Homo sapiens: one gene and its partners. The protein of the gene in region 1 interacts with the protein of each later gene in a biochemical or structural test. Each region holds a gene or a part of one and is shown in the gene's direction. Other genes may lie near its edges. The genes, in order: ERBB3, TNS3, RNF41 and SH2D1A.

What was found.
Region 2: the proteins of ERBB3 (region 1) and TNS3 form a complex in vitro, tested with the Homo sapiens proteins (2 studies listed by BioGRID and IntAct, with this or other methods).
Region 3: the proteins of ERBB3 (region 1) and RNF41 form a complex in vitro, tested with the Homo sapiens proteins (2 studies listed by BioGRID).
Region 4: the proteins of ERBB3 (region 1) and SH2D1A form a complex in vitro, tested with the Homo sapiens proteins (2 studies listed by BioGRID and IntAct, with this or other methods).

The regions. Positions count from the first base shown.
Region 1 is NC_000012.12:56,090,134-56,097,195, forward strand, and holds part of ERBB3 (receptor tyrosine-protein kinase erbB-3 isoform 1 precursor), read left to right. Parts: intron 1-2,613; coding exon 2,614-2,687; intron 2,688-2,852; coding exon 2,853-2,943; intron 2,944-3,211; coding exon 3,212-3,417; intron 3,418-3,630; coding exon 3,631-3,763; intron 3,764-3,965; coding exon 3,966-4,056; intron 4,057-4,268; coding exon 4,269-4,423; intron 4,424-5,123; coding exon 5,124-5,177; intron 5,178-5,531; coding exon 5,532-5,673; intron 5,674-6,369; coding exon 6,370-6,489; intron 6,490-6,614; coding exon 6,615-6,713; intron 6,714-6,911; coding exon 6,912-7,062. UniProt on the Homo sapiens protein: Tyrosine-protein kinase that plays an essential role as cell surface receptor for neuregulins.
Region 2 is NC_000007.14:47,579,077-47,586,087, reverse strand, and holds the start of TNS3 (tensin-3), read left to right. Parts: upstream 1-3,976; 5' UTR 3,977-4,037; exon of another isoform or gene 4,038-4,215; intron 4,216-4,389; exon of another isoform or gene 4,390-4,582; intron 4,583-6,192; exon of another isoform or gene 6,193-6,237; coding exon of another isoform or gene 6,238-6,249; intron 6,250-7,011. UniProt on the Homo sapiens protein: May act as a protein phosphatase and/or a lipid phosphatase. Involved in the dissociation of the integrin-tensin-actin complex. EGF activates TNS4 and down-regulates TNS3 which results in capping the tail of ITGB1.
Region 3 is NC_000012.12:56,218,861-56,226,832, reverse strand, and holds the start of RNF41 (E3 ubiquitin-protein ligase NRDP1), read left to right. Parts: upstream 1-4,910; 5' UTR 4,911-5,073; intron 5,074-5,131; exon of another isoform or gene 5,132-5,242; intron 5,243-7,972. Other genes in the region: NABP2 (SOSS complex subunit B1), read right to left, coding at 414-477, 573-654, 1,138-1,209, 1,322-1,460, 1,898-2,051. UniProt on the Homo sapiens protein: Acts as E3 ubiquitin-protein ligase and regulates the degradation of target proteins. Polyubiquitinates MYD88. Negatively regulates MYD88-dependent production of pro-inflammatory cytokines.
Region 4 is NC_000023.11:124,342,361-124,349,571, forward strand, and holds the start of SH2D1A (SH2 domain-containing protein 1A), read left to right. Parts: upstream 1-4,202; 5' UTR 4,203-4,282; coding exon 4,283-4,419; intron 4,420-7,211.

The DNA.
Region 1 (7,062 bases):
GAATTATAGGTGTGTGCCATCATGCCCGGCTAATTTTTGTATTTTTAGTAGAGACAGGGTTTCACCATGTAGGCCAGGCTGGTCTCGAACTCCTGACCTCAAGTGATCCACCCGCCCCAGCTTCCCAAAGTGTTGGGATTACAAGTGTGAGCCACCGCGTCTGGCCCCCCATACACTCTTTTACCCAGATCCTCCAAATGTTAACATACCACATATGGCCGGGCACAGTGGCTCATGCCTATAATCCCAGCACTTTGGGAGGCTGAGGCAGGTGGATCACTAGGTGTGGATCACGAGGTCAAGAGATTGAGACCATCCTGGCCAACATGGTGAAACCTCATCTCTACTAAAAATACAAAAATTAGCTGGGCGTGGTGGTGTGCGCCTGTAGTCCCAGTTACTCAGGAGGCTGAGGCAGGAGAATAGCTTGAACCTGGCAGGCAGAGGTTGCAGTGAGCCGAGATCGCGGCACTGCACTCCAGCCTGGTGAAAGAGCGAGACTCTGTCCCCCGCCAAAAAAAATACCACATACGCTTTATCACTTCTCTCTCTCTCTGTCTCTCTCTACACACACACACACACACACAAAACACATGCTATTGTTTTTCTGGACCACGTGAGGGTAAATTTTCACACATGGTTCTTTCTTACCCCTGTTATATTTCAGCGTATATTCCTTAAAAATAATATTTTCTTACATAACCACAGCATAGTTGTTTGAATCGGAAAATTAACATTAACACAAAATATTATCTAAGCTACAGACCTTATTCAGATTTCACTAATTGTCCTCCTAAGGTTTGGGATCATACATTACATTCAGTTATCGTGGCACTTCAATCTCCTTTATAACAGCTCCTCAGGTTTTGTTTATCTTTCATGATATTCTTGATGAGTATAGATTAGGTAATGGGCAGCATGTTCTTCAGTTTGGATTAGTTTGATGTGTCCTCATGATTAGATTCAAGTTTTTGTAGTTTTTTTTTGAGACAAGGTCTGGCTCTATTGCCCAGGCTGGAATACAGTGGCATGATCTCAGCTCACTGCAACCTCTGCCTCCCGTGCTCAAGCGAGCACCTCAGCCCCCTGAGTAGCTGGGATTACAGGTGCATGCCACCATGCTTGGCTAATTTTATATATATATATATATATATATATATATAAATAATATATATAAATATAAATATATATATATAAATAATATATATAAATATATATAAACATAAATATTATATACTATTTATATATTTATATATGTGTGTGTATATATATATATATTTTTTTTTTTTTTTGAGACGGAGTCTCGCTCTTGTTGCCCAGGCTGGAGTGCAGTGGCGTGATCTCAGCTCACGCAACCTCCACCTCTCAGGTTCAAGCCATTCTCTATAGAGACAGGGTTGCACCATGTTGTCCAGGATGGTCTCGAACTCATGAGCTCAAGTGATCCTCCTGTCTCAGCCTCCCAAAGTGCTGGGATTATAGGCATGCGCCGCTGCCAGGCTGGAGTTTGATAAGAACACCACAGAGGCTGTGAGCTCAGGGCATCCTATTGAGGATGTACGTGATGTTGATTTGTCCCAGCACTCACAATGATGTCTCTGGTCACTTAGTTAAGGTGATATCTGTCAGGTTTTTCTACTGTAAAGTTACTATTTTTCCATTCACAATTAATGAATGTCTTGGGATAATTGCCTGAATCAATTATTGTTATGATAGTTGCCAAATGATAATTTTCTAATTCCATTATTCCTTCTGCATTTGTTTGTTGGCATTCTACTGTTAGGAAGAGTCTTTCCAGCTGAGCACAGTGGCTTATGCCTGTAATCTCAGCCCTTTGGGAGCCAGTGGGAAAATTGCTTGGGCCCAGGAGTTCAAGGTTACAGTGAGCTATGATGGCACTACTGCTCTCCAGCCAGTGCACTCACTCTGCACAACAGAGTGAGACCCTGTCTCTTAAAAAAAAAAAAAAAAAAAGGCCAGGTGCAGTGGCTCATGCCTGTAATTCCAGCACTTTGGGAGGCCGAGGCGGGCGGATCACAAGGTCAGGAGTTCAAGACCAGCCTGGCCAGCATGGTGAAACCCTGTCTCTACTAAAAATACAAAAAATTAGCCAGGCATGGTGGTGTGCTCCTGTATTCCCAGCTACTTAGGAAGCTGAGGCAGGAGAATCACTTGAACCCAGGAGGTGGAGGTTGCAGTGAGCTGAGATTGCTGCCACTGTACTCCAGCCTGGGCGATAGAGCAAGACTCTGTCTCAAAAAAAAAAAAAAAAAAAAAAAAAAAAAAAGGTCTTCCTTTCCTATTTACTCTTATGGATACTTATTTTATTCTAGTCAATGGTTATAATCCTTTACAATCATTATTTATTTTAGCCAGCCCCTCCAAGTTGGCTCCTGTGTTCTTTGGGCTGTACCCTTAATTCTTTGAGTCTTGTCTTGTTTGCACAAGATGCTCTGGGCTTATATTATATTTCCCCCATCCCAGCCATTTCTCCAAGGAATGTTTCCTTTTAGTGGAGAATGATATTTAGAAACCAAATGCTGAGGCTGGGTGTGCTCATTGCCATTGAGTTATACCTTTACCTTATTGACTGGTTTCTACTGTTCTATTCAGAGACCCCTGGCACAAGATCCCTGCCCTGGACCCAGAGAAGCTCAATGTCTTCCGGACAGTACGGGAGATCACAGGTGAGTGGCAGAGAGTTTGCCCTTTCTAGAAGAATAGGTGAACCACTGGCATAAATTGCGGTATAACTACTTGAGAAAATCACGTCCCAAGTTATAGGGGAGGAGCCAGGAGAACCCAAGAAAGAAGAAGGCTCCCTGCCCATATGCCTCTCTCCAACCCCTCAGGTTACCTGAACATCCAGTCCTGGCCGCCCCACATGCACAACTTCAGTGTTTTTTCCAATTTGACAACCATTGGAGGCAGAAGCCTCTACAAGTGAGTAAAGGGTATGGAGGAAATGGCATCTTCAGGCAATGAAGCCTGTGTCATAGGCATTCTTTAGTAAAATACAAGGCACTGTCTCATACAGCAGTGCCTCAAAACCAAAGGGTTTCAGAGTTTCACGAGGAAAAGGCAAAAGGAGGGGGATTCCCTCTCAGTGGATCTGACTAGCACTGAGCAAATTTCTTGACTAACATGAATCCTTTGAATAGTTAATGTTCCCTTAGTAGTCTCTCCTCTCATCCTGTCTCCTTATTCTCAGCCGGGGCTTCTCATTGTTGATCATGAAGAACTTGAATGTCACATCTCTGGGCTTCCGATCCCTGAAGGAAATTAGTGCTGGGCGTATCTATATAAGTGCCAATAGGCAGCTCTGCTACCACCACTCTTTGAACTGGACCAAGGTGCTTCGGGGGCCTACGGAAGAGCGACTAGACATCAAGCATAATCGGCCGCGCAGAGACTGCGGTGAGGGAAAGGGTCTGCTAGGTGGTGAGAATAGGGAGTCAGGGAGGAGAGGGCTGAAAGGACTATTCTGCCCTAGACGTGGGAGTAGGGTTGAGGGATGGAACCAAGGAGAAGGGGGCTGTTAGGCTGGAAGCAGTAACGAGGAAGAATAATGAAGAGAGGGCTTGCTGGGAGTCCTCAGACTCCTCTCCTAACCCACCCCTTCCTTTCCAGTGGCAGAGGGCAAAGTGTGTGACCCACTGTGCTCCTCTGGGGGATGCTGGGGCCCAGGCCCTGGTCAGTGCTTGTCCTGTCGAAATTATAGCCGAGGAGGTGTCTGTGTGACCCACTGCAACTTTCTGAATGGGTACAGTAAGGGGAGCCAGTCAAGGATGGGTGGGGGTGGGGCCCTGCAATGGAACTGTTCAGGTGGCATACAATAAAAGTCTTTAGACAGCTTTCTGCATGTGCCTTGGTGGGATTGAGGTAGGAGACCTGTGGTTGTGAGATCGGAGCATGAAGGTCAGGACTTGGAAGTGACCCCCCCCTCCCTTTATTCCCCACTACAGGGAGCCTCGAGAATTTGCCCATGAGGCCGAATGCTTCTCCTGCCACCCGGAATGCCAACCCATGGAGGGCACTGCCACATGCAATGGCTCGGTATACTAGTAGCACCAGGATCTCCAAGGGAGACAGAGAAGGGGCAATACTTGGAGCATCTGGGGAATGATATGGCTAAGGATAGCACAGAGAGGCCAGATAATGCTAGGGCCTGCAGATAGAAGATCCTGAATGTCTGGGTTGGTCTTTGCTGGGAGGTATGGAATTGACCTTGGGATCTGATTCTTCCTGACCTTCTCTCTTCCACTCAGGGCTCTGATACTTGTGCTCAATGTGCCCATTTTCGAGATGGGCCCCACTGTGTGAGCAGCTGCCCCCATGGAGTCCTAGGTGCCAAGGGCCCAATCTACAAGTACCCAGATGTTCAGAATGAATGTCGGCCCTGCCATGAGAACTGCACCCAGGGGTCAGTGATGGGATAATAAGGAGAGGGGGTCAGGTGGAAGGGTAGGAGCACAGAACTAGAGTGAGGGAAGCAGAAAGAAGAGAGAGGCTGTGATTCAAGAATCACTCCCAGCTGGCCGGGCGCAGTGGCTCACACCTGTAATCCCAGCACTGTGGGAGGCCGAGGTGGGTGGATCACCTGAGGTCGGGAGTTCGAGACCAGCCTGACCAATATGGAGAAACCCTGTCTCTACCAAAAATTTAAAATTAGCCCGGCGTGGTGGCGCATGCCTGTAATCCCAGCTACGCGGGAGGCTGAGGCAGGAGAATTTCTTGAACCCAGGAGGCAGAGGTTGCGGTGAGCTGAGATTGCATCATTGTACTCCAGCCTGGGCAACAAGAGTGAAACTCTGTCTCAAAAAAAAAAAAAGAATCACTCCCAGCTGTGTAGCGAAGGATTGGAGAAAGGGAAAATCAGTAACAGCACAAAATTACACCACAGTTTTGGGAACCTGGAATAACCTCAGTTCAAGGGAGTTTCACAGAAGAGGGGCTTGGGGAGAGCTAGTGAGCTGGAGGTGGAGGCCATGTCTTGGGATCAGCTCTGGGCTCCAGGATGGGATGCCACGGTAAGTTCTGAAACAAGCTTTTATATGTTAGGCTGTTGAAATTGAGCCTCTGCTGTCCAAGCTCTCATTTAAGGTGGTGACTTTCTTCCCTAGGTGTAAAGGACCAGAGCTTCAAGACTGTTTAGGACAAACACTGGTGCTGATCGGGTATGATGGGGTTGGAGATTCTGGAAACTGGGGATATTTGGGAGTTGGGAGAGAGGTGGTTACCTGGAGAGAAGAGGGAGGCTGTCTTCATTCTGGCCTTTTATGTATGCAGTCCACTATCACTGGACACTTGGGACTCAAGAATGCAGGCTTCTGGACTTCCCTTCCTAAAATTAACTTTCAGTAGTCTAAGACTGGTCCAGATTTAGGTTGGTCCCTTCAGTGCTTAAGGATATATATGTGAATGTTAATTTCTTGCCCCAGGTCAGCATCATACCTTCAACACAAGTATAGTTGACATTTGTAAGGAAGATGCAAACCCAGGATAATGTTGGGTTTCTATATATCCCATAGCAAAACCCATCTGACAATGGCTTTGACAGTGATAGCAGGATTGGTAGTGATTTTCATGATGCTGGGCGGCACTTTTCTCTACTGGCGTGGGCGCCGGATTCAGAATAAAAGGGCTATGAGGCGATACTTGGAACGGGGTGAGGTGAGTACTTAGCTTACTTTTGTTTTTTCTTTTCTTTTTTTGCATGTCCTGGAAGTCTCTTTATAGCTTAATTTTGAGTGGTACCCTGTGCACCCAGGGGTCAGTGATGGGATAAATGTCACTCCCCTCCTCTTTCCCCAGAGATTTGATCCCTTTCTTCAAGGAAGTAGTGTGGTCCCCTAGAAGAACACTGGTCAGAGAAATGGGAGGCATGCATTCTAGTCCTGATTTTGCCATTAATTTGCCACATGACTTTGAAGAAGTTACTTATCTTCTCTGTGCCTCGGTTTATGCATCTATACAGAGGAAATAACATTTGTCCTTCCAGGATGGCTGTAAGGGTAAAGGGGGATGATGTATGTGAAAGTGCTTTGGAAAGCACAGAGCACTGTATAAAAGGTACTCAAGGTGGTAATAGTACTACCAACTCTCCCTAGCTGTCCCCTTCCCCACTTTGTGCTCCTCCATCAAAGGGAAAACCCAACCCCTTTGATTCCTGATCTCATGAGCACAAATAACTTCCTCAGTTCTCAGGGTCTGTACCTCAATATGCCTATAATCCATTCCAGGACTAACGGTGCTTCCTCTTCCTGCCCTTTCAGCTGTGCTGCTTTTGGCATTCACCTATGAGGAGCGGGTTGGAGTGGGACATGGGAATGGCCTTTCCTGAGTAACTCCTTCCCATTTGCTCCTCAGAGCATAGAGCCTCTGGACCCCAGTGAGAAGGCTAACAAAGTCTTGGCCAGAATCTTCAAAGAGACAGAGCTAAGGAAGCTTAAAGTGCTTGGCTCGGGTGTCTTTGGAACTGTGCACAAAGTGAGTGACCCATAGGAATTCTGGAGAGGTGGGGAAGGCATCTAGGGCAAAGGGGTGAAAGATTTTTGCATAGGATTGACCTAGGGAGAATGACCTTATGCCAACTCCTGCCCCAAACTTCCCAGGGAGTGTGGATCCCTGAGGGTGAATCAATCAAGATTCCAGTCTGCATTAAAGTCATTGAGGACAAGAGTGGACGGCAGAGTTTTCAAGCTGTGACAGATGTAAGTGAAGGAAATTCTGTATGCCGCTAGGAGAGAGGACAATATTAGATACAATCATGTAGAAGCAGGGTCCTGTGCTTCTCAGCAGCTACTATGTTAGCCAGAATGTTGGGGGTGGGGGGGCCTGGGCTGGCTGTGCACATGCTGAGTGTATGTGAACCTGTTGGTTTCCTAGATAATACCTTTTGTGTCTCTTAGCATATGCTGGCCATTGGCAGCCTGGACCATGCCCACATTGTAAGGCTGCTGGGACTATGCCCAGGGTCATCTCTGCAGCTTGTCACTCAATATTTGCCTCTGGGTTCTCTGCTGGATCATGTGAGACAACACCGGGGGGCACTGGGGCCAC
Region 2 (7,011 bases), on another chromosome or scaffold:
CTCCCGAGTAGCTGGGACTACAGGCTCCTGCCACCACGCCTGGCTAATTTTTTTTTTGTTTTGTATTTTTTAGTAGAGACAGGGTTTTACCGTGTTAGCCAGGATGGTCTCGATCTCCTGACCTCGTGATCTGCCCGCCTCGGCCTCCCAAATTGCTGGGATTACAGGCGTGAGCCACTGCACCTGGCCTAGAAGAAATTTATTATAGGAATTGGCTCACACAATTATGGCTCACACAACTATGTCTGCAAACTGAAGACCCAGGAAAGTTGGTGGTGTAATTGCCAGTCTGAGTCCAAAGGCCTGAAAACCAGGAGCACTGATATTTGAGGGCAAGAGAAAATGAATGTTCCAGCTCAAGAAGGAAGAGGAAGAACTCACCCTTTTTCTGCCTTTTTGTTCTACTTGGGCCCTTGAAGGACTGGATGGTGCCCACCCACACTGGTGAGGATGGATTTGCTTTACTCAGTCTACCCATTCAAACGCTAAGCTCTTCCAGAAACACGCTACCCACACACCCAGAAATCACATTTTACCAGCTATCTGGGCAACCCTTAGCCCAATCAAGTTGACATCTGACATGAGCCATCACAAACACCAAGGTTATGTAAATTCCGAAAAGGTTCTGAGACACGGAAAAGCTCAGGTGCCTCTAGCCAGGCCTGGCAACTGTAAAGCCCACTTTGTTGAGCTGTAGGTGAGGATTCGTGTGTTTGGGAAGAGAAAAAGGAAGAGAGGAAAGGGCCAGGTGTTCTAGTAAGAGTCTCAAGGGACTTAGTATCTTTTTTTTTTTTTTTTTGAGACAGAGTCTTGCTCTGTCACCCAGACTGCAGTGCAGTGGTGCGATCTCAGCTCACTGCAACCTCCGCCTCCTGGGTTCAAGCGATTCTCCTGTCTCAGCCTCCTGAGTAGCTGAAACTACAGGTGCGTGCCACCACTCCCAGCTAATTTTTGTATTTTTAGTAGAGACGGGGTTTCACCATATTGGCCAGGATGGTCTCGATCTCTTGACCTTGTGATCTGCCCTCCTCGGCCTCCCAAAGTGCTGGGATTATAGGTGTGAGCCACTGCGCCCGGCCGAGACTCAGTATCTTAAGGCAAAACACAGGCATTTGCTCATGTTCCAACTCCACAGTTCTCTGAATGCGCTGTAGAGCTTTGTAACTCCATCCTGTGTAATGTTTCCTGCTGTCTCTTTCAGTTGGTCTTTGGGAAATATTTTCAGTGACAGAAAGTAAGAAATAAGGAAAAATATCCAAGTCCTTGCTCATATACCTCCCTTGATCTAGGGATACAAATTCAGATTTTTGCGGTGGCAAAGACAATCTTCATTGCAATGACAAGCTTCCAACACATCTTCTAAAACTCCTACAGGGGAGGAGCAAGAATGAGTCTGCAAAGAAGGGCTCAGGGAGGAAGGAGATTGGCGGGAGTTTCTTGCCCAGACTCCCCTGCCCTCTGCTTGGCATACTAGGAGGGAGAGGCCACTCTTGGCATATTGCTGCTTTTTTTTTTTTTCAGCTAAATGTTGGAGACTTTTGTTTTCAAAGTTGAGTTTTTTTTGGATGGCTAAGGATGGAAAAAATGCACATTCCCTTTTTCAGATACTGGTTCATGCCCTGTTTTTGTTTAATTTCTTGGAAACTTGAAGTTGCAGCCTGCGAAGTGGGGAGGCCCTGGGCTGGGGAAGCGAAGCTCTGGAAGGGGCCCAGGTCCCGATTGGGGATCCAGAGAGGCTTCCCTTCATGTGCCTCTAGACGAGGTGTGGGGAACCCGGGGAACAGCCATCCCAGCCAACACAGAGTGCGTGGGGATACTGGAGCCCGGTTTTTCTTCTCCTTTCTTGGGACACTGCCAGGGAATATAACCACAGACACTGCACGAATGAGCACCCAAGTCACAGTTTTTCTAGAAACAAAGGTGTGGTTGGGGCATCCCATTCCATTGCTACCCCAACAAGGGCAGTGTGGCCGGTGGGGCCATCTGGCTTGGGTGTGGGTAGCAGTTTGGAGAGATTTTAGAAGAGGCTCCCTGACAAAGGGTCAGAGAACCCCAGCACTGCACTGAGTTTTCCTGACTGTGAGCTCTCAGACAAACAACAGTGTCACCTCCTGTAAATGGGTGCCCTAACACTGCAAGAAGCTCAAATTCATGTTGTCATTCAGCCAACATGGTTTTTGGCATTATGATGGTTTCTGTGATGCACAGAATAGCACGTAATTGGCTCTGGGTGTGAAGATCACCACGGTCTTAATGGAAGAGAGGGTTGAGCAAAGTGATGATTTAGTCCAATTGCACAGAGTGGATGGTGTGGGCAGGCAGCTGGGAAGAAGTTAAGAGTAGCCTCAAGGCCAGATAGTCCTGATCCCTCCCACTTTCTTCGCCTGACCAGGTGGGTGACCTTGAACAAGTTGCCTAGAATGTCAGATCCTGTTTCCTTATCAGGACAAAGGAGATCGTAACAGTACCAGCCTCACCCCCATTCCTAACCCAGCTGGCTGTGACCTCCTCCCCACCTTCCCCTATGGCATCTTCCCTGGCACCCCTTGACTCATCTCATTGACTCTTGACCTGGTGTCTCCTAGAGTGTAGGAAAAATGCCTGCCTCATCTCTAGGGGCTGGGGCATGGTGCTCATGAAGCCTTTGCCTGGGAATAAATACCCAGATCAGTCTGGGGATGAGAAATGACACTACCTTCCAGAGCACAGCAGGGGTTGTTCAAGTCTTCCAGAAAAGCAGCTCTTGTTTCTCCTCATGTGGTGGGAGTGGAGTCAGAGCGTGGCTCAGGCCCCACATTCTCAGCTGTTTGGATCTGGGGACTCGAAGTTTCTGGTGGTTACTTCTGAAAGTCTTTTCCAGGATAATTATTCTTGCTCGGTTTCTCTGCCATCTCTGACAGGCTGTTTTCCCTGCTTCCCCCGCTGCCCTGAAGGGGCCAGAGGAACAGGGCAGGACCCCAGGGCTGCGGATGGGTTAGGCAGCTCTGTTCCCGAATCCAAAGCAGTTCTTGGTGACTGTCCTCCAAGACTTGCCCTGGACCCTGCTCCGGGTGGGATTCTGAGACCGCCTGCTCCACGTGGCAGATGAAATCTAGGTCTCTTCTGTGAGAGGCTGGCGGGGAGGATGTTTTCCTGGAAAGGACCACAGGACAAACCGCTGATGAAATTTCTCTTGTGACCTCCCTGGAGGAAGAGCACTTCTGATTTCTGCAAACTTTTTCCATTCCCCCGATCTCACAAATGGGGAAACTGAGGCTAAGCGACTGAGTTCAGGGCCATCTGAATCTCAGGGATGGACAGTCAGGATGGACAACCTATAGGCCTTTCCTCCTCTGAGAATCTCTCTGCTCGGGATCGTTTTTCTGGTTTCCCCTGGCTTGCCTAAATTCTGCTCATTTGTCCCGGCGCATTTTAAGAAGTCATGTGACTTCTAAAGACTTCCCTGACCTCCTCCCTTCATTAGCTGGGTATTTCAGGGGCTTCTACGGCACCCTAGGCTTTCCGGAGCGGCTGTGCTCCTTTATGTATGCGCGACTCCCACTAGGCTATGAGCTACAGGAGGGAGGGTAGGTCTTGCTCCCGGAGAGCACCTTAATCACAGGCGCTGAATGAAAGAATGAACTGGTTGTGCAGGAACCAGGATCCGAACCCGCCTCCCCAGGTACTCTAACACCGGCCCGGCGGAACCTGCAAGCCTCCAGACCACTTGGAGCCTGGGCTGCTCAATGGGTCTGATAATTCCAGGTCCTCTCTGCGGCCAGCGAAGGGAGGTCCCAGGGCGCACCTCGGCAGGGCGGGGGACCCCGGTGAAGGGCGCCTGGAGGCGCGCTGCATTGTTAGGGTGATGAGGCCAGGTGACCCGCCAGGCTCGGGGCGCGGGCGCGGGGGCCGGCCGTGGCGATTGCCCGCGCCGCCTCGAGGGGGCCCTGCCGCGGGCGCCGGCAGCCAGCCAGGAGGACGGGCCCGCCCGCGCGCTACTCGGAGCCCAGCCTCGTTGCGGCCATCGCCCTGCCGGACCGCGCCTCAGGCTCCCCCAGGTACTGGGGCCGGGGAAGGAGGAAACGCGGCCACGCGCCGCGGTCCTCTTTGTTTCGGGCCCGGCGCGGGCTTTCGCGCTCCGGGCGCAGGAACGAGGCTTGGGGAGCACAGAGATCTGGAGCTGGGGCGCGGGGACTGAGTTCGGGGAGCGCGGAGACAGAGTTCGGGGAGCGCGGGGTACGGGAGCTCAGGGCGCGGGGATGGGGTCACGGGAGAACCCAGGTTAGGGAGCGCGGGGACCCGGTTGGGGGCGCACGGGCAAGGGGTTTGGTGCGCGCGGGTACGGGGTTTGCGGCGCGTGGGGGGCGGGGGCTCGGCAGGAGTCCCAGGACAGGGGCTGGGGCGCGGGCCAGCTTCGCCGGAGTCCGGGGACGGGGGCGCTGACTGGCTGGGTTTGGGGACTGGCTGGGGCGCAGGACCACTCGAGTGGGACCCGTGGCGCCCGGGCGCCCTGGACTGAGGGCAGAGACCGGAGCAGCTATGTCGCAGTCGCTGTCGGGACCGAGCGGACTTTGCTCCCTAGGACTCCGTCTCGAGACTCCAGGTGGAGAGCGCAGCTAGGGGCTTCAATGGGCAGGCTCAAGACCCTTCTCCTACTTTTTCTAGGCAAGCTCTCCAGTGCGTCTCTTTCCCTTTCCCTTTGGTGGGTGGGAGGCAGGGGGTCTTTACGCGCTTCCTTTTTTTCCCTGAAGGACGGGACCTCGGGGTGGGGGGATATTCTGGGGTGGGGGGTGCTGTCCCAGGCTGGGGGCCAGCTGTGTGGCATGTGCCTCCTGGCACGCGGGAGCTGTCGCTGACAAGCAGGAGGAGGGAGGGTCCCGGACGGCCCAGGGGTCTCTGTGTCGGTGCTGTGCAGCGGCCTGACATGTGAGTCCCGGGTCCTTTGCTTGGAGTGATTTGAGTGTCTGTGGCGGGAAGAGATTCAGGCGTTCCTCAGGCATTCTCCAGACAGTGTCAGCAGATGACCCGAACTCCAGCGTGGTTGAAAAACTCAAAGCGCCATCAGGGTGTGGGGCCAGCAGAGAGCACTACTGAGGGTGGTCACAACCCCCTGGGAAGCCCCCAGGCTTCCTTGGGGCGCATTCACACACTTTGATCTTCCGGGTTGGCTTTCCCCCCATTTTTTTCACTATTTGAATGCATGATCATGGAGGACTCTGAAAATATACTGAAAAGTATGAATGCAGAACTCATTGTATTAATATTGCATGGCCCTTCTGAACTAACCAACCCTTTGACATTTTAGATTTTCTTGAGGCTTTGGTCTGTGCATATTAATTTTTTAAATTGCTTTCATGCTTTCCCTTTTGAATGAGGTTTACTTGTTCTGGTGATTCTGGTTCTTCTCTCTTTGGGGCCTGTGAGGTTATATTTGCAAATCAATCAACAAGTATTAAGAAAGGCTTTTCTGTGCTGAGGCCTTGAGGGCCAGGGAGGGGGTGGGGAGTCGCTGCAGCTGGAGGGTGGAGGGGCAAGGCCATTACACAGAGATGGAGGTGCACTGGGTCCTGGTGGGGGTGTGGTAGCACAGGGGGTGGGGGGTGTGTACACAGGGAATTGACAGGAGGAACTGGCAGCAAGCCCGACTCCTGACCTTAGGAATAGTAATGGTGACCCCGAAGACAAAGTAACAGGCATACCGATTGAGTGTTTGCCTGTGCTAAATGCTTTGCATGCATTCATTTCATTTCACCCAAATTACATTCCTTGGAGGGAGTTGGGATTATGATTACCCCATTTTACAGACGAGTAAACTGAGGCAAAGGAAGGCTAAGTAACTTGGCCGAGATGAAATGAAACATGGTGGTAGTGCAGCCTGGGATTCTGGGACAGGACTCTAGGGTCCCAGACCCCTGTTCCTGGCTGCTGCTGCGCGTCTGTCGACTGAATTCTAATGCATGTCCAGACAGCGATTCCTCAGCTGAGGCTGCCATAGCTATCAGCAGCTCAGCTGAATTATGTCTTTAAAAAACTACCAAGATAGAAAAACTAGTAGCCCCAGGGCACTACTTATTCCTGAATGCAAATTGATTTTTTTTTTTTTAACAAAGTGTCTCTTTGGCACCTAATGTTTTGAAAGTGAGCTGTTTGCAAATGTGACTCTGGAAATAAAGGGCAGGAGAGGGGGTGTCAAAGTATGCTCTTCCACTGCAGGAGGTGTTGCTGAAGGGGATAGCAGAGACCTGAGGAGGAGGCAGTATGGCAAGAACAGTGAGTGGAAGGGCTGACCTACCATTTGGCAGTCGCAGCTTATATCTGCTTAGGACTCTACACAAGGACCCATTTTACAGATGAGTAAAATACCAAGTAAATTCTTAAAGTCTGGGAACAGTTAGGGATCTGAATGAGCCCAGTTCTCTGACTCTATGTGCCCCATTCCTTTCTTAAGATCAGCCTGTTGTAAACCACCCCTGTTCAGGGGAAGCCTCTTGTTCCCTCCCTGTGTCCCTGTGTATGAACTTGAGAGGGGGAGGAACTTTCCACCTTCCTGAGGGCAGAAAGCATTGTTTAGATCCCTGCCACTTACTAGGAAGCCAGAGACATTTGCTGAGTGCCTCAGCAGCACGCTTAGAATTGAGGCTTCGAGGCTTCCTCACAGCGGCCCCCATAGATTTCCCAGGGAGGGGCCTCCTGTCTTGCGGGTTGATCTGGTGGGTTTGCCCCATGCAGCAGGAGCTATCATGGGAAGGGTGGGTCTGGGCGTCTGAAGCTCTCCAGGAGGTCAGCTGACCCTGGGACCCCGGGTCCTTCCTGTAGGACCCCAGAAATCACTGGGGAATCAGCTAACCCCTGCAAGCTGTGCCTGGAATGACCTAGAGCCAGTCCTGTCTACCTAGAATCCTCTGCTGCTATCCTTGTTGATCTAGAATGAGGGATGCTGGTTAGTTGGTTAATTAAGTAGGTGGTTGATTAACTTAGTTACTCTCTTCCTCACAGCAAGAGTATTAAAAACCATCACAACATGGAACACAG
Region 3 (7,972 bases), 130 kb from region 1:
AGAATCACTTGAACCCAGGAGGCAGAGGTTGAAGTGAGCCGAGGTCACACCATTGCACTCCAGCCTGGGTGACAGAGACTCCATCTCAAAAAAAAAAAAATTAGCCGGGCATGGTGGCAGGTGCCTGTAATCCTAGTTACTTGGGAGGCTGAGGCAGGAGAATCACTTGAACCTGGGAGGCGGAGGTTGCAGTGAGCCGAGATCACGCCATTGCACTCCAGCCTGGTTGACAAGAGCGAGACTTCGTCTCAAAAAAAAAAAAAAAAAAAAAAAAAGGGGTCTGGGAGAATTGGGTGAAGGAGGATACACTGAGAAAAGAGAGATTTGGAAAAGGAATGAGGGAAATGCATCTTTCTAGGCTGAGGAGAGTGGGAGAGCTAGGAGGACCAGTGGATAGAAGGGAACAGATTTACCTGGAGAGGCAGCAGAGGGTCCAGTGGTAGGCTGGGAAGCTGAAGGGTTGCTGTCGTTCTGCACCTGAAGGCACAGATTACATATTCAGATCCTGCTCCCTCCCATGCTTCTTGTCTTGATCTGCCCTCCTTTCCCACCATTGTGGCCACAGGACTCACCGCCTTGTTGGGTGCCTGCTGGGTGCTGTACTCTGGGTTTGGCTCACTGAAGTTAGGAACCTCAGAATAAACCATACAGAATCTGCAAGGGAAGAAAGTAGCTAAAGCCTTGAATTCATCCTCTGGGCCACTGCTGGAGGCCTCAGAAAAGTCCAGATAGGTTCGGTGTGGTCACTCACACCTGTAATCCTAGCACTTTGGGAGGCAGAAGCGGGAGGATCACTTCAGCCCAGGAGTTTGGGACCAGCCTGGGCAACATGGCGAAACCCCATCCCTATAAAAAATACAAAAAAATTAGCTGGGTGTGGTGAAGCACGCCTGTAGTCTCAGCTACTTGGGAGGCTGATGTGGGAGGATCACCTGACCCCGGGAGGTCAAGGCTACAGTGAGCCCAGATCATGCCACTGTACTCCAGCCTGAGCGACAGAGACTGTTTCTCAAAACAAACAAACAAACAAACAGAAAAAGTCCAGAAATGAGGCTTGGACTGCACACCCTATGCTGCCTCCTTGCAAACCCCTTTGCCCTGGTGCTTCTTCATCCCAATCCCCAAGACAGCACTTACTCTCCAATCTTCTGCAGATCACCCCCACGGCCAGTATATAGTGTCAGACAACCTTTGAAAACTGAAGCGTACCTATGGGAGGCAAAAAAAGCAAAATTCAGTACTCAGAAGTGTTATAGGGACTGTTAACCCCACTCTTGATTGTTGTTGCCTTTGGAAGGCCAGAAGTCACCAGCTGACTTACCCTTTGGTGAGCCGGATAATGTCCCCAGGCTGGATCAGATTGCCAACATCGTCCCAGACAGAGATATTGATGCTGCCTGTTTTGTCCGCCACTTTGCAGGTCCGAACCTCATGCCCGTCCTTTGTCTTGGTCACTCGGCCTGAACGGAACAGATAAATCGAGGTGGGAGGATGGTCAAATAAATGGAGTGGTATCTCTCAGAAGGATGAGATGTGGATATTGGTGGAATGAGGGAAAAGGTGTACAAACAGGGGAAAGCCCAAATCCCTGGGGCATAAAGGGTTGGGATTGTGGAAGGGGTGGTGGAGGGTGGAGGTGGGAGTTCAGGGGCCAGCACCATGGAGAGGGCCCTGAGTGGAAAGAGGCCCGCGTCGCACAGGAGGTCTAGATCTGGCAAGAGTTCTATCTACCCTATACCTGACTGCAACTTTCTGTCCCAGGGTCGAAGAGATTGGGAGTGAGGAGTGTCTTGCAGCTTGCCTTGCCATCCCCATAGCAAGTTAAGAACGCAGACAGCGTTCTTCCCCTCCTGCCCCCGACCCCCATCCCGCGAACCCGCCACCCCAGTATAGACACCTGTCTCCAGCACAATGAAGATAAGGTTCAGATTCTTGAGCCCAGGCTTGATATCCTTCACAAAGGTCTCCGTCGTCATGCTGCCTGAGCCTCGGCACCCCACTGGATGGGGAATAGAGGATGAAGGCTCAATGCTTGGATCCTTTGCCCCCATGCTCCACTTCCCAAGGCCTACCTACCCCATTAGGCTGGGGTCAGGCAGCCTCAACCCCTCTAACCCTTCTAAAAGATTAAAAAAGAACATCCCCGGAGGCCTCCAACTTCAGGATCAGAATTTGGGGGTCTCTGGACAGGCTGCTTTGGGGCTGGAAGGCCCCCTGCCGGGATGCTCTTTTAGTCTCAAGCCGCGAAGTGGCGGAGCCGACGTAGACAGGGGTAGGGAACCCGGTGCACAGCCAGGGAGTAGAATCTTACTGGCCAGATCTTCCGGAACCCTCATCCCGACAAGCCGGGACTCGGTCCATCCCCTCCCCTACCCGCAGCCCACCACCCACCCAAGCCAGCCGGCAGGACTGTGCACGCCGCTGAGCAGCCCGCAGGGGGAGCCACAGGCTCCGCTGCCGCCGGATGCTGCCCCGTGGAACGCGGGAGTGCGGACATTCCCGGAAGTTTCCCCCGGCTGGCCTCCTCCGGCCAATCAGCACCGCCCGGGCGCGCCCTGCGTCCCGCCGCCTGCCCTGCCCAGCCAATCGGGATCAGAGACTCGTGCGCCGCGAAGGGGGCGAATTTCAGGTATTAAAGGAACCTTGGAGATAGTTGGCTCTGTAGGGGGAAAAATCCACCACTAGAAGGCGCACAGGGCCCCCAGTTTTCCTTAACTTGGCTAGGGAGAATGCACTTAGGTTCTAAGACGTTTCTTTCCAAAGAGTGACACAATGGGAAAAGGAGCAAGGGCTTCGGAATCTGGCGGACAAAAGTTTGAATCCTGGCTCAATGCTTCACTTCATTTCTCGACTATTTAAACATATGTAATTCCAATTCCGCAAGGCGCGGTGGCTCACGCCTGTAATCCCAGCACGTAGGGAGGCATAGGCTGGAGGATAGCATGAGTCCAGGAGTTCCAGACCTGCCTGGGCAATATAACGAGACCCCATTCTCCACAAAAAGGGAAAAAAAGACAAAAAATATGTAATTCCATCTTACGAGAAAACGGAAGTTATATTTAAAAAAGTGCCTTGCACACAGTAGGCACACACGGTTTCCTCCCTTTTTATTGCTCTAACCGTTATCTTTGTTCCTGATTTGGGGTTCTCATCTTTAATGCACTACCCAGCTTGGTCAAGGTCTCTGGGAAAAGTGGCATTTACACCAGAGACAAAAGGCAGGCTCACCCTTCTTGGAAGAAATGGAACCTGCGACAAAGAGAGAAACATTGTTAGTCCCTTTTTTTTTTTTTTTTGAAACAGGGTCTCGCTGTGTAACCCAGGCTGGAGTGTAGTGGTGCAATCTTGGCTTACTGCAACCTCCCACCACAGCCTCCGTAGTAGCTGGTACTACAGGTTCGCACTACCACCCTCGGCTAATTTCTGTATTTTTTTTGTAGAGACAGTTTCGCCATGTTTCCCAGGCTGGTCTCGGACTCATGACCTCAAGGGATCCGCCCACCTCGTCCTCCCAAAGTGCTAGGATTACAGGCGTGAGCCGCTGCACCTGGCCATACTACTCTTCCCCGCCCCGCCCCACCGCTCCACCCCGGCAAAGGAGTCTTGCTCTGTCGCCCAGGTTGGAGTGCAGTGGCGCGATCTCGGCTCACTGCAATGCAACCTCTGCCTCCCGGGTTCAAGCGATTCTCCTGTCTCAGCCTCCCGAGTAGCTGGGATTACAGGCGCCCGCCACCACGCCCGGCTACTTTTTTTGTATTTTTAGTAGAGACGGGGTTTCACCACGTTGGCCAGCCTGGGCTCAAACTCCTGACCTCGTGATCCACCAGCCTCGGTCTCCCAAAGTGTTGGGATTAAAGGCATGAACCACCGCGCCCGGCCATACTACTCTTATCTTACTTATCTCAGAGTCCCGCTAGAAGACAGCAGAAAGGAGGCCTGAAACTTTAGTTCCTTTTGGGACCTGTCAAATTGTCCACAAAAGGTAGCTAGCTCTGTATTGTTGTGTATAAACAAATTACATAAAGATATGTGTGTATGTGTGTATTAATGTGCATTAGCATTTGCTTAGCCAATGTCCACAATAAATACCATACTATTTAATACCAGATTAGTCTAGGAAGTCATGTGATTGTAATGCCTTGGTTTGCTTAATTAATCCCTTATCTGCTCACGGAGCTCTTTAGGCTCCACATTGACTTCCCTTGGATCCCACGTTCTCTACCGCCCACATCCCCAACACCACGGTGTTGTAAGCTAAGGAAATCAAACCCCAACTCAGGAAGAGGGAAATTTTTTCTCCCTTCCTTCCTCTTAGGTGTTTCAGGGAACTCCACAAGTGTTCGGGGAGCCATCGTGGATACGGCAGGAGAGCGCCTGGGAGAGAGGCAGACAACCCGTTGAGCACCCCAGATCTAAGCTTTGCGGTCAGACTCCCTCACTCCCCACCCCGCGGCCGCCTTGTTAACTGCAATATCCATTCCCATGACAGGAGTCAAGGGGTTACGAAGCTCTGGGATGCTGACCAGGGCTCTGGAAAAGGGAGAGGGGCCGGACCCGCAGCAGGTCACGCTGCAGGCCTGCCTCTCCGCAATGATCTCGCAACAATCTGCGTCAGCTCTAAGACACAAGTCACCTGCACCCCTCCAAAGCGAAGCGTGGCCGGCCAGGCCCACACGTTTTTGCCGGGAAGAACATAGAGTTCTCCCTCCTAAATGGCTACATAGTCCTGGCTGGGACCATATAGACTCTAGACTAGACTTCCTGTCTAGAGTGGAGGCCTGGCCAGCCTTCGTCCCTCCTCGTAGGCAGCTCCTGGCTGCTGGTGTAGGGGCTGAGTTAAACAAAGAGGCGGGGTTTGGTGACGAGCTTCCGCCGGGTTGCGTAGCAGCGGTGGGCGGGGCAAAGGATCCGTCTGAGGCGGCGACGAGTGGTAGGAGTCTTCTTTCCCCTCCTTCCCCTTTCCCTTCCCTTCCCGGGAGAGGCTGGGACCCGGCACCAGGGCAGTACTGTGGCCGCTGCGGCCTCAGCTCCGACTGGGTCAGGTTGCGGAGACTCCAGGCCGCTTCCAGGGCGGTGCGTACTGCGCCTGCGCGATCTTCCACCTAAAAGAGGGTGTGGGAGGGGAGGAGGTGATGTCCCAGGGGTATTGGGGCGGGGGGTTGAAATAACTGGGGTTCAGGAGGAGGGATGGTGGTAGAGATAAAAATGTGAGAAGGGAGCAGCACTGGCGAGGAGTCGGGAGGTGAGAAGGGGGCTCTGGAGAACGGGTTGTTGGGGAAGGTCCATTGGAATAGGGGAGCTTTGAGAAGTGCGGGAGGGGGCCGGGGCTAGCTGGAGGACCGGCACCTGCAGAACTGGGGGAACAGCGTGGTGTTTAAATGGGCAATGATTGACGGGCCAGAAGGGGAGGAAGGGAGCATTCCGGGGGCCAGCCTGGGCAGGGGCGGTGGAACCTAAACCCCCGCCCTCGAAGCGCCATAGCTTGGCTCCTCTCCCATGCCTTGTCGTTGGCAGCCTTGTCCTCTCATTCCTTCCCCGCTCCTCACCCCCTCCCAGCCCTCCATGAAGGAATCTCACATTCTTCACATCCCTGCGCTTGGTTTGCAGCCTGGCTCTCTGGCAGGGTTCACACACCACACACTGGAAGGCCTTCCCTAACTCAGGACTTTGGGAAATTGGGTAGTGGGGAGGAGGGGGCTAGAGGAAGAGCAGAAAGCCAGGAGGGGTGAAGGCGTTTTGCTTGAGGGATTGACAGACTGCTTCCCCGTTCAGAAACTTCATTTCATTTAATAGCAAGTGGGGCTGTTATTGAGGCCACTGTTCTTGGGGACTGGCCCGTGATAGTGTTATCCCTTTCTATACAGGGGTTTTAGAGTCTGACAATAGGGCAAGAGACTGATAGTGTTGTTGGCTGATAGTTTTGCCCCAAATAAGAATGTAGTGGACTAGTGGTAGGGAATGTGAGTGATGCAATGTTAAGCCGACCGACCTGTGGCTAGCCCTGCCTTCTAGTAAAAAGAAGGAACAAGCTTTTGTCAAGCATTTCCTCTCCGACTCTCAGTACTCTAAATTTATTTTGCATTCTTGTTTTTTTTTTTTTTTGAAACGGAGTCTCACTCTGTCACCCACGCTGGAGTGCAGTGGCACAATCTCGGCTCAGTGCCACCTCTTTCTGGGTTCAAGCGATTCTCCTGCCTCAGCCTCTTGAATAGCTGGGATTACAGGTACCTGCCACCATGCCTGGCTAATTTTTTGTATTTTTAGTTGAGATGGGGTTTCACCATGTTGGCCAGGCTGGTCTCAAACCTCTGACTGTAGCCGGGCGCGGTGGCTCACGCCTGTAATCCTAGCACTTTGGGAGGACGAGGCGGGCGGATTGCCTGAGCTCAAAAGTTCGAGACCAGCCTGGGCAACACAGTGAAACCCCGTCTCTACTAAAAATATAAAAAATTAGCCGGGGCATGGCTGCATGCACCTGTAGTCCCAGCTACTTGGGAAGCTGAGGCAGGAGAATTGCTTGAACCCAGGAGGCAGAGGTTGCAGTGAGCTGAGATTCCACCACTGAACTCCAACCTGGGCAACAGAGTGAGACTCTGTCTCCCCACACCCCCCGCCAAAAAAAACAAAACAAAACCCTGACCTCAGGTGATTGGTCCATCTCGGCTTCCCAAAGTGCTAGGATTACAGGCATGAGCCACTGCACCCAGCCTTATTTTGTATTCTGTTGCTACAAATAATCTTACTTGAGGATAACAGTATTCAGTATCCTTTCATATTTATTTATTTATTTATTTATTTATTTATTTATTTATTTTTGAGACAGGGTCTCACTCTGTCACCCAGGCCGGAGTGCGGTGCTGCGATCTCTGCTCACTGCAACCTCTGCCTCCTCGGCTCAGTTGACCTTCCCCCTTCAGCCTCCTCAGTAGCCGGGACTACAGGCACTCACGCCATCATGCCCGGCTAATTTTTGTATTTTTTGTAGAGACAAGGTTTCACTATGTTGCCCAGGCTGGTCTCAAACTCTTGGACTCAGGTGATCCACTCACTTCGGCCTCCCAAAGTGCTGGGATTACGGGTGTGAGCCACTGCGTCCAGCCTCCTTTCGTATTTATTATTTCATTTGATTTGCAGACAGTATGTATAAGGGGTGCGCGCGTGTATATACACATATATACACACACACACATATATACACCTTATATTACGCCGGGCGCAGTGGCTCACGCCTGTAATCCCAGCACTTTGGGAGGCCAAAGGTGGTGGATCATATGAGGCCAGTTTGAGACCAGCCTGGCCAACATGTTGAAACCCTGTCTCTACTAAAATATAAAAATTGGCTGGGCGCGGTGGCTCACGCCTGTAATCCCAGCACTTTGGGAGGCCGAGGCAGGCAGATCACGAGGTCAGGAGATCAAGATCATCCTGGCTAACGTGGTGAAACCCTGTCTCTACTAAAAATAAAAAAAAAAAATTAGCTGGGCGTCCTGGCGGGCGCCTGTAGTCCCAGCTACTTGGGAGGCTGGGGCAGGAGAATGGTGTGAACCTGGGAGGCGGAACTTGTAGTGAGCCGAGATCGCATCACTGCACTCCAGCCTGGGTGACAGAGCCAGACTCCGTCTCAAAAAAAAAATAAATAAATAAATAAATAAAATAAAAATTAGCCTGGCATGGTGACACATGCCTGTGATCCCAGCTACTCAGGAGGCTGAGGCAGGAGAATTGTTTGAACCTGGGAAGTGGAGGTTGGAGTGAGCTGAGGAGATTGCATCACTGCACTCCATCCTGAGCGACAGAGGAAGACTCCATCTCAAAAAAAAAAAGAAAAATAGGCCAAGCATGGTGGCTCACGCCTATAATCCCAGCACTTTGGGAGGCCGAGGCGGGCGGATCACAAGGTCAGGAGATTGAGACCATCCTGGCCAACATGGTGAAACCCCGTCTCTACTAAAAATACAAAAATTAGCTCAGC
Region 4 (7,211 bases), on another chromosome or scaffold:
GCTCTGCAGTCAGTGGCCTGTGTTCATATCCTGGGCCTGACATTGACCAGTTGTGCCACCTTGAATAGGCTACCTAGGTTCTCTGGGTTTCAGTTTCTTTGTCGGTAAAATGAGACTAATAATAGTATTTGCTTCACAGGGTTGTTGATATAAATAAATGAGATAATACATTCAAAGTGCTTAGCAGGATGCCTGGAATATAGTATGCAGTTAACAAATATTAGCTGTTGCTATTATTCCGAGAATGAAACCTCAGAAGCATGCAGAGTTTCAGCTAGAATGAGGGAACTTCCTTTGAGTCACGAAGGAGGCAAAATTCGTGCAATAAAAAAAAAAAAACCTGTACACAGCAGACAGAAAGATAAAAACACTTTCCATCTCGAATAGATTGTGCGAGTTAGAATATAAGTTGAGTTAGATATGCCACTACTATGTCCCTAGAGCCCCATCCTTTCCTCTATCTCAGCTCTTGTTAAGTGAATTATAATTGTCTGTTTGCTTGTCTGTCTTCTTCACTGGACCTATGAGCTACTTAGGGGCAGATACTGTACTTTTCTGTAACCTAAGTACCTACTATAATGTCTGGCATATGGTAGATGCTCATAAGTGTTGGTTGAAATAATAAAAATATTTAAGACAGGCTTAAATAAACACACACAACAACCCTGTCTCTGGCTTCTCACTTAAAAAGGGCATTTAGAAAGATTGGCCTCATAGGTAAACCCAGAGATTATCAAAAGGAGGTGCTCTTTTGTAAAAAAAACAATTTTTTTCTTTAATCATTTTTGTAAAGGAAGTGAATTTTAGTAAGTGCTGAGAGAATGTGTAAACTCACCACAGGTAACACTGTCATAACACTGTCACAGGAGAATTCACACCTATAAATGAGCTAGTGGAAGAACAAAGTTAGTTTTGAAAGGTCAGAGAAAAAGATTTTGAAATGTCAGAGCCACTCTATAAAACTGACCACCCTTGGCATCATTCTTTTAATCTACCTGGGTTTGAGAATAGCCTAGGGCATTTGAAATGAAGACAATTAGCACCTCAGACAGGGCTTCCACATGCAAAATTCTGTCACCTCTCAGAGACCTCAGGAGTTGACAAGTTTGGTTAAGAAGATACTTTCAACCTTGGCTGGCAGTTTTTCTAAAATTTCAATGCTTTTATAATCTGATTTAAATGGCATCTATATTCTAAAAGGTTGTAACTGTGAAGCTCTCTTCCTCCATTCTATGATTTTCCCCCTTAAGTTATTGTAAAATGTCAAGAATGAAAATATTTCCTTTATTGAGGGAGATTGAGGAAACAGGTCTTTGTTCTTGTGCACAAATAAGTTCAATTCATTTCCCCTCTGTTTCTCTCTAAAACACATTTGGCTTTTGTTTAGAGAATAGAATGTTAAACCTAGACGTGACCTTAGGGGTCATCTGGTTCAATTCCATTTGACAGATGGAGAAAATGAGACTCAGAGAGAAGTGATTTAGTGGCAAAACATGGCATATATTTCAACTCTCCTACTTACTGGACTACTGCTCCTTCCAATTCATCTTGTCATTTCAAAGACGACCATAGGCATGTAGAACCAATATTGTGTGTGTGTGTGTGTGTGTGTGCGTGAGTGTAAAAGAGAATTTCAGTATTTTTTCTTTTATTGAGAGCATTAAGTTCATTCATTCATTCATTCACACAACAAATATATATAGCACCTACTACTTGCCAGACACAGGATACAGTGGTGAGCAAAGTACACAAAATCCCTCCATCATGGACCTTACATTCTAGTGGGGGACACAGACGATAAACCATTAATTAAATAATTCTGCTCCTAAGTGGTTTATACTTGTACTTGGGGTCCATTCTTCCTAACTCTTTCTCTGTTGGTGCCTCTACTATCTCCATTGCTCTCCTCTTTCATTTTCTCCCATTTCCTCTCGTGTGTATGGGGAGAGAAGGAAGAGAGTCATTTCAATTCCTCTTTTCTCTACGCTTCAAGCTCAGTGTGAAGTTTTGAATTTGCTAAAGTCAGGTTTAGTACTGGTGTAGGATTAGAGTGAAGATGTCAGTATTTTTCATCAACACTGCACTAGTGGGCTGGCTCGGCTGGCTCAGCTGTCAGCTTGCTTGTAAGATGACAATGAGGTACTGGATGTGAAAGTTGTACTATTACCTTATAATTTATCTGTTTTTTAGTGCAATTTTAGTTGTGCTGAACCCCGTCATACCTGGCTGCTTTGACAGGTGTGCTATTTTAGCAACATGGAACAAAACAGAGAAAGAAAAAAAGAGTGCATGGTACGCTTGTGCTGTCAGATCCAGGTTGCTCTGTTCCTAAGTTTATGGATGATTTGTTCAGAGTTGTTAAGAGACAAAAAAAGGTTAGGTTTTGTTTTCACTTATGTGACACTGAATGTTCTCACAGTTCACCTCACAGGTCAGCTGTTGCTCATATGGACTGATATAAAGGGATCCCTTTCCCTGTCTCCTTTCTATTTGAAATTCCACCATTTTGATTAATTCCTCTGGGCTAACCATTTGCCTGCTCAATATATGGAGAGCCCAAGGTGGACAACCTTTCAAATCCTTAATGTTGGAGTATGCATTCATATATCAGATTAATTTCTTCCTTGATCCAAAGCATGAAAAGGGGTAAGAGGTGGAGTTGGTCAAAAACATGTGAGGAAGGAAGATGATAAAATAATATTGGTCCCATTCCCCAGAGCCATCCCCAAATGTCACCTTGAATGCTTTAAAAAAAAATTCTTAATGCTGAAAATGACTAGTAGGAGACTTATGTTTATACTTTGCATACTAAGGCTGGACACTCTTCAATCAAGAAGAAAAGTTGCTACCAGCTACCACTGAAATCTTAGAGGATTGTTCTTAATCCTAGTAGATGAAGAGCAAATATCTGCCTTTGGTGCAAGTCAGCTCTGTACATCCAATCCATTGGTAAGACATGTGAGGAATTAAGTGTCGTTCTCGCTATTGAGTTCCCAGCCTTGCCATATTCTCAAAGAACTACACACTGAAGTTGCAGAAAGCATATAATAGACGACATAGCTTCAGTTATTTAAATTCAAATTTTAAAAGTACTTTACATAATCTAAAGGTACATGTACAAGACCATTCAGCTTCAGCAATAAATAAAGTCTTACTCTAGTGAAAATGCAGGAAGCTTTGCGGAAATATTACCTAGCACATTTTGAAATAGAAGCAATGTTTTATTTCAGAGAAGAAAATGAAGGTTGAAAGGTTTTAAAATATTAAAGACAGTTTAGCCTCAATCGAAGAAATAACATTTTCTAGAAACAACAGAGAATAAAAGTTACAACAAAATTATCAACAACTTGCAAATGATTCAAAACAGATTTTATGGACAAAATGCTGAAAGGTGGGCCCTGTACACCAAAGGGCACATACAAATCCACATAAAGGCAAAGCACCAGTTAAATGATTCACAGTCTCATCTAAAGCCCATCAAATAGATACATCTGGAACATCTTTGGATGTACATTGTGACTTTTGTATCTCAACTAGCACTTTGGGACCTTGGACAAGGTGTTAGGAAAGAAATCAATATTTGCTCAGGATCAAGACTTCTCAAGATGACTGCGTGAGGTAGAAGGAAGAGGGAGAAGAAGAACTTGCCCAGAGTTCACTGTTCATCTACTATGTCTGATTCTGTAGGAGTCTTCATGGCCATGTTCAGTAATGATTGCATACTGACAGTACTGATAAAACTATCAGTGTTTTGTTCTCAGAGCTCTTGGTCCTTTCATTTTGTCAGTGTGTTTTTGCCCTACGTAGTGGGTCCACATACCAACAGAGACATGTACAACTTGCCTCTATCATCAACTCCTTATGGGCTAGTTGAGCTAAGTTATTCCTGGTGGCCTCTGAGTAAACCGCAAGAACAGAAGCATTACTAAGCATCCCCGTCTGAGTGCAAGGGTGTGTGTTGGCAGTACAGCCCCAATCTTGCAAAATCCTTCTTCCAATGTTCCTCCCCTCTCTGTATGAACCCTGTGTTGGGGGGCAGAAGATGGAAGCCCTTGGCAAGCTCGATCGAACCAAGCTACTAAATTGCTGAGCTCGTTTTAACTGAAGTGTGAGAAGGAGGTTTAAGGCAAGTAGACAACATCCTGTTGTTGGGGTGCTTCTCTCTTTTTTGCACATCTGGCTGAACTGGGAGTCAGGTGGTTGACTTGTGCCTGGCTGCAGTAGCAGCGGCATCTCCCTTGCACAGTTCTCCTCCTCGGCCTGCCCAAGAGTCCACCAGGCCATGGACGCAGTGGCTGTGTATCATGGCAAAATCAGCAGGGAAACCGGCGAGAAGCTCCTGCTTGCCACTGGGCTGGATGGCAGCTATTTGCTGAGGGACAGCGAGAGCGTGCCAGGCGTGTACTGCCTATGTGTGCTGTGAGTATGATACGGTGGACATGGGCCTGCTGAGGGTGTGGGCGGTGGGCAACAGCAGCTGGGGCCAGGGTGGAGGCCGAGGCAGGCAGGGGCGCCGGCGTTAGCAGCTCGCCGACGCCTCCTCCGTGGCCCACCCTCAAGTCCAGCCCAGGGCCGTGGTGGAACACACTTTCGCCTCAATCCCTCGCTGGGGATTTCATTCCCTGGGCCTCCTGCTCTCCAGAAGGCCCTCACCAGAGCCTTTTGGGGCAGCTGCAGAGAATGCCATTTCGGGTGGTGAAATGTGGTCCACAGTTTACCTTCGCTCCGGGAAAGACCCAGGCTCCCCACTTCCATTTTGACCCCTATCGGGTGGCGCCCTGCGAGCCTTACTCTAGCTCTCTTTAAACGACTTTTGAAGTGTCATCCCAAAGGAAGAGCATGACATTCAGAGAGAGGAGGCACATTAAGAAACAGAGTCAATTACTTTAAGAATGCAATGCCAGTTAGGTCGAGATGCTGAGAGAGGAGGGGGATGTGTGTCAGTAAAATCACCTCTCTGGATCTGCTGATGTAGCATCCTTTAGAAAAGTAGTGGGGGGTGGGGAGGGGCAGGGGATTTCAGAAATAGGACCCTTCTTGATAAACGTTAGGACTCACAATAGTCTTAAAGGGAATGGAGGGAAAACACCCTTGTTATGATTCAGCTTTGCCATTTGCCTAGGCATGTCTCATTCTAAGGCTTCATTTTGAATCAAATTCATCTGCGTCTTTGCTCCAGGGCTCCGGAGTCAGGCAGATCTGAGACTTTGTCCTGTGCTCGTCAGATGTTAGGTTTGTGACTTGGGCAAATTAACCTCTCAGTTCCCCAGTTTTCTTATCCATTGAATAGGTATCATATTACTGCCTACCTCATAGGATTGTAAGATTAAGTGCCATAATGCAGTAAAAAAATTAGCACTGGGGCCTGACACCTAGTAAATGTTCAATAAATGTAAGCTATTGGTATTATTATTATACCAAAGATATATTATTATTTTATCTTCTCTTTTCAGTTGATTTCTTTTAGGAATCATGGGGGCATTTCTAAGGAAGGACCTAGCTCAGGCATTATTGTCAGCAGGATAAAAAAAAAAATCCATGAAAACAGCAGCCCTGCATTGTAGGTTCTAGACAGAAACCAAATGAGGTTAAATGCTTGGTAGTAAGTTCAGCATCTGATAATACCCCACAAGAGTTTGAAATACCTTATGGGTCAGTGAAGAAAGATTATCCTGATGCTGGTGCTAGAAGATTTTTCACTGTATATTGTTTTTTAAAAACGGTCAAGCCTTGTTTGTGGCAGCTCTCAGGTCATGCTAAATACATTTTTCACAAAGGCTTCAAGGGAAATACGTGGAAGCTATTGAATGTCTTGGGCTTGAATCTTTATGTTTTGCTTATATAATTATTGTTCCCGTGTGGAACCTAGGGAAGGGCAATGAAAACCAGCTAGGATTCTTAGGCTCTTTTCTCATTGAAAGAAGGTGGAGTGAGTGGGTGGGTGAAAGGCGCTGCTTTAGGGAAGCTGACAAAGGAGATAACATGCTCCTTAACCCAAAGGTGAAAAAGAATGTACAAAACAAGTCTGGGCAGGGGAGGGACAACAGGGTATAGTGAGAGGCAAGATATACCTAAGGCTTCAGCCTCACGGGGCTCCTGGCCGTTTCTCAAGCTCCTCAAAAATGCCCCCACTTAGGATTTCTGCGCTTATTGTTCCTTCTGCCCAAAATACCTTCAGTTCACATGTTTGTTCAACTGTCTCCTCCCTCAGAGAGGACTTGCTTGACCACCTATCTAGAACAAGTGCCCTCTCCCTGTCCCTGATACACTCACTCCATCTCTTTATTTTTCTTCAAAGAGCTTTAAACTATCTGATAATTTGCTTGTTTACCTACTTATTGCTGGGCTGTCCTGCAAAAATATAATCTCCATGAGGGCGGAGATACTGTCTCCATCACCAGAAACACAGGAACACATAATAGGCACTCAGCAGATATTTTTGAATTAACAAACTGTCAAGGCAAATTCTGTTCTTTACTGCAATAAACGGAATGGCCATTGAGAGGTTAGGGTATGGACTCTGGGAAAGTCACTCAAATTCTCTGGGACTCAGTTTCCATATTTATAAAACAGGAATAGTAATGTGTATCCTACCTTCTGCAAAAGATTGCCTTAAGTACCTTATGCAAGAGAGAAGGGCAGCTTTAGACTTTTGCCTATGTAGGCCGGAACCACATGAGGAATTAACTTAGGCAGGTGAGAAATTATCAAGCATTTAAGTTTTCGCCCAAAGTGAATCTTGCATAAATGCAGTTTTTATGACTCTTAGTTCTCCATGAAAACCTCCTTGTGAAGTAGCGGAAAATACTAGACAAATTGGGAGTTCCCTTACGGTGTCTTTCAAATGGTACACTGGGGCCTCAAAGTCTTATGTGACTGTTAGGGTGATAGCCAGAATGTGCTGCAGAGGGAAGATATGAGGATACATTGCCTTTTATCAGTTTCTCAATGTTTTTGAGTTGAGTGTCCCTTTTGATAAATGTAAAAATTTCATTCCCTCTTTTTGGTGCTACACTGTAATTATAAAATCAGATTTTATTTAGAAATAAACCACGTACTCATTTTAAACCAGAACACTTATGATATGCAGTCGAAATAACAATATAAGTGGTATCATATACACATGGACAACAAGGTATAGCTGACAAACATGCATTGATTGTAGGGTTTACTCAGAATGGTTTCTCATTCTATCTTTTGTTTACTCCTAT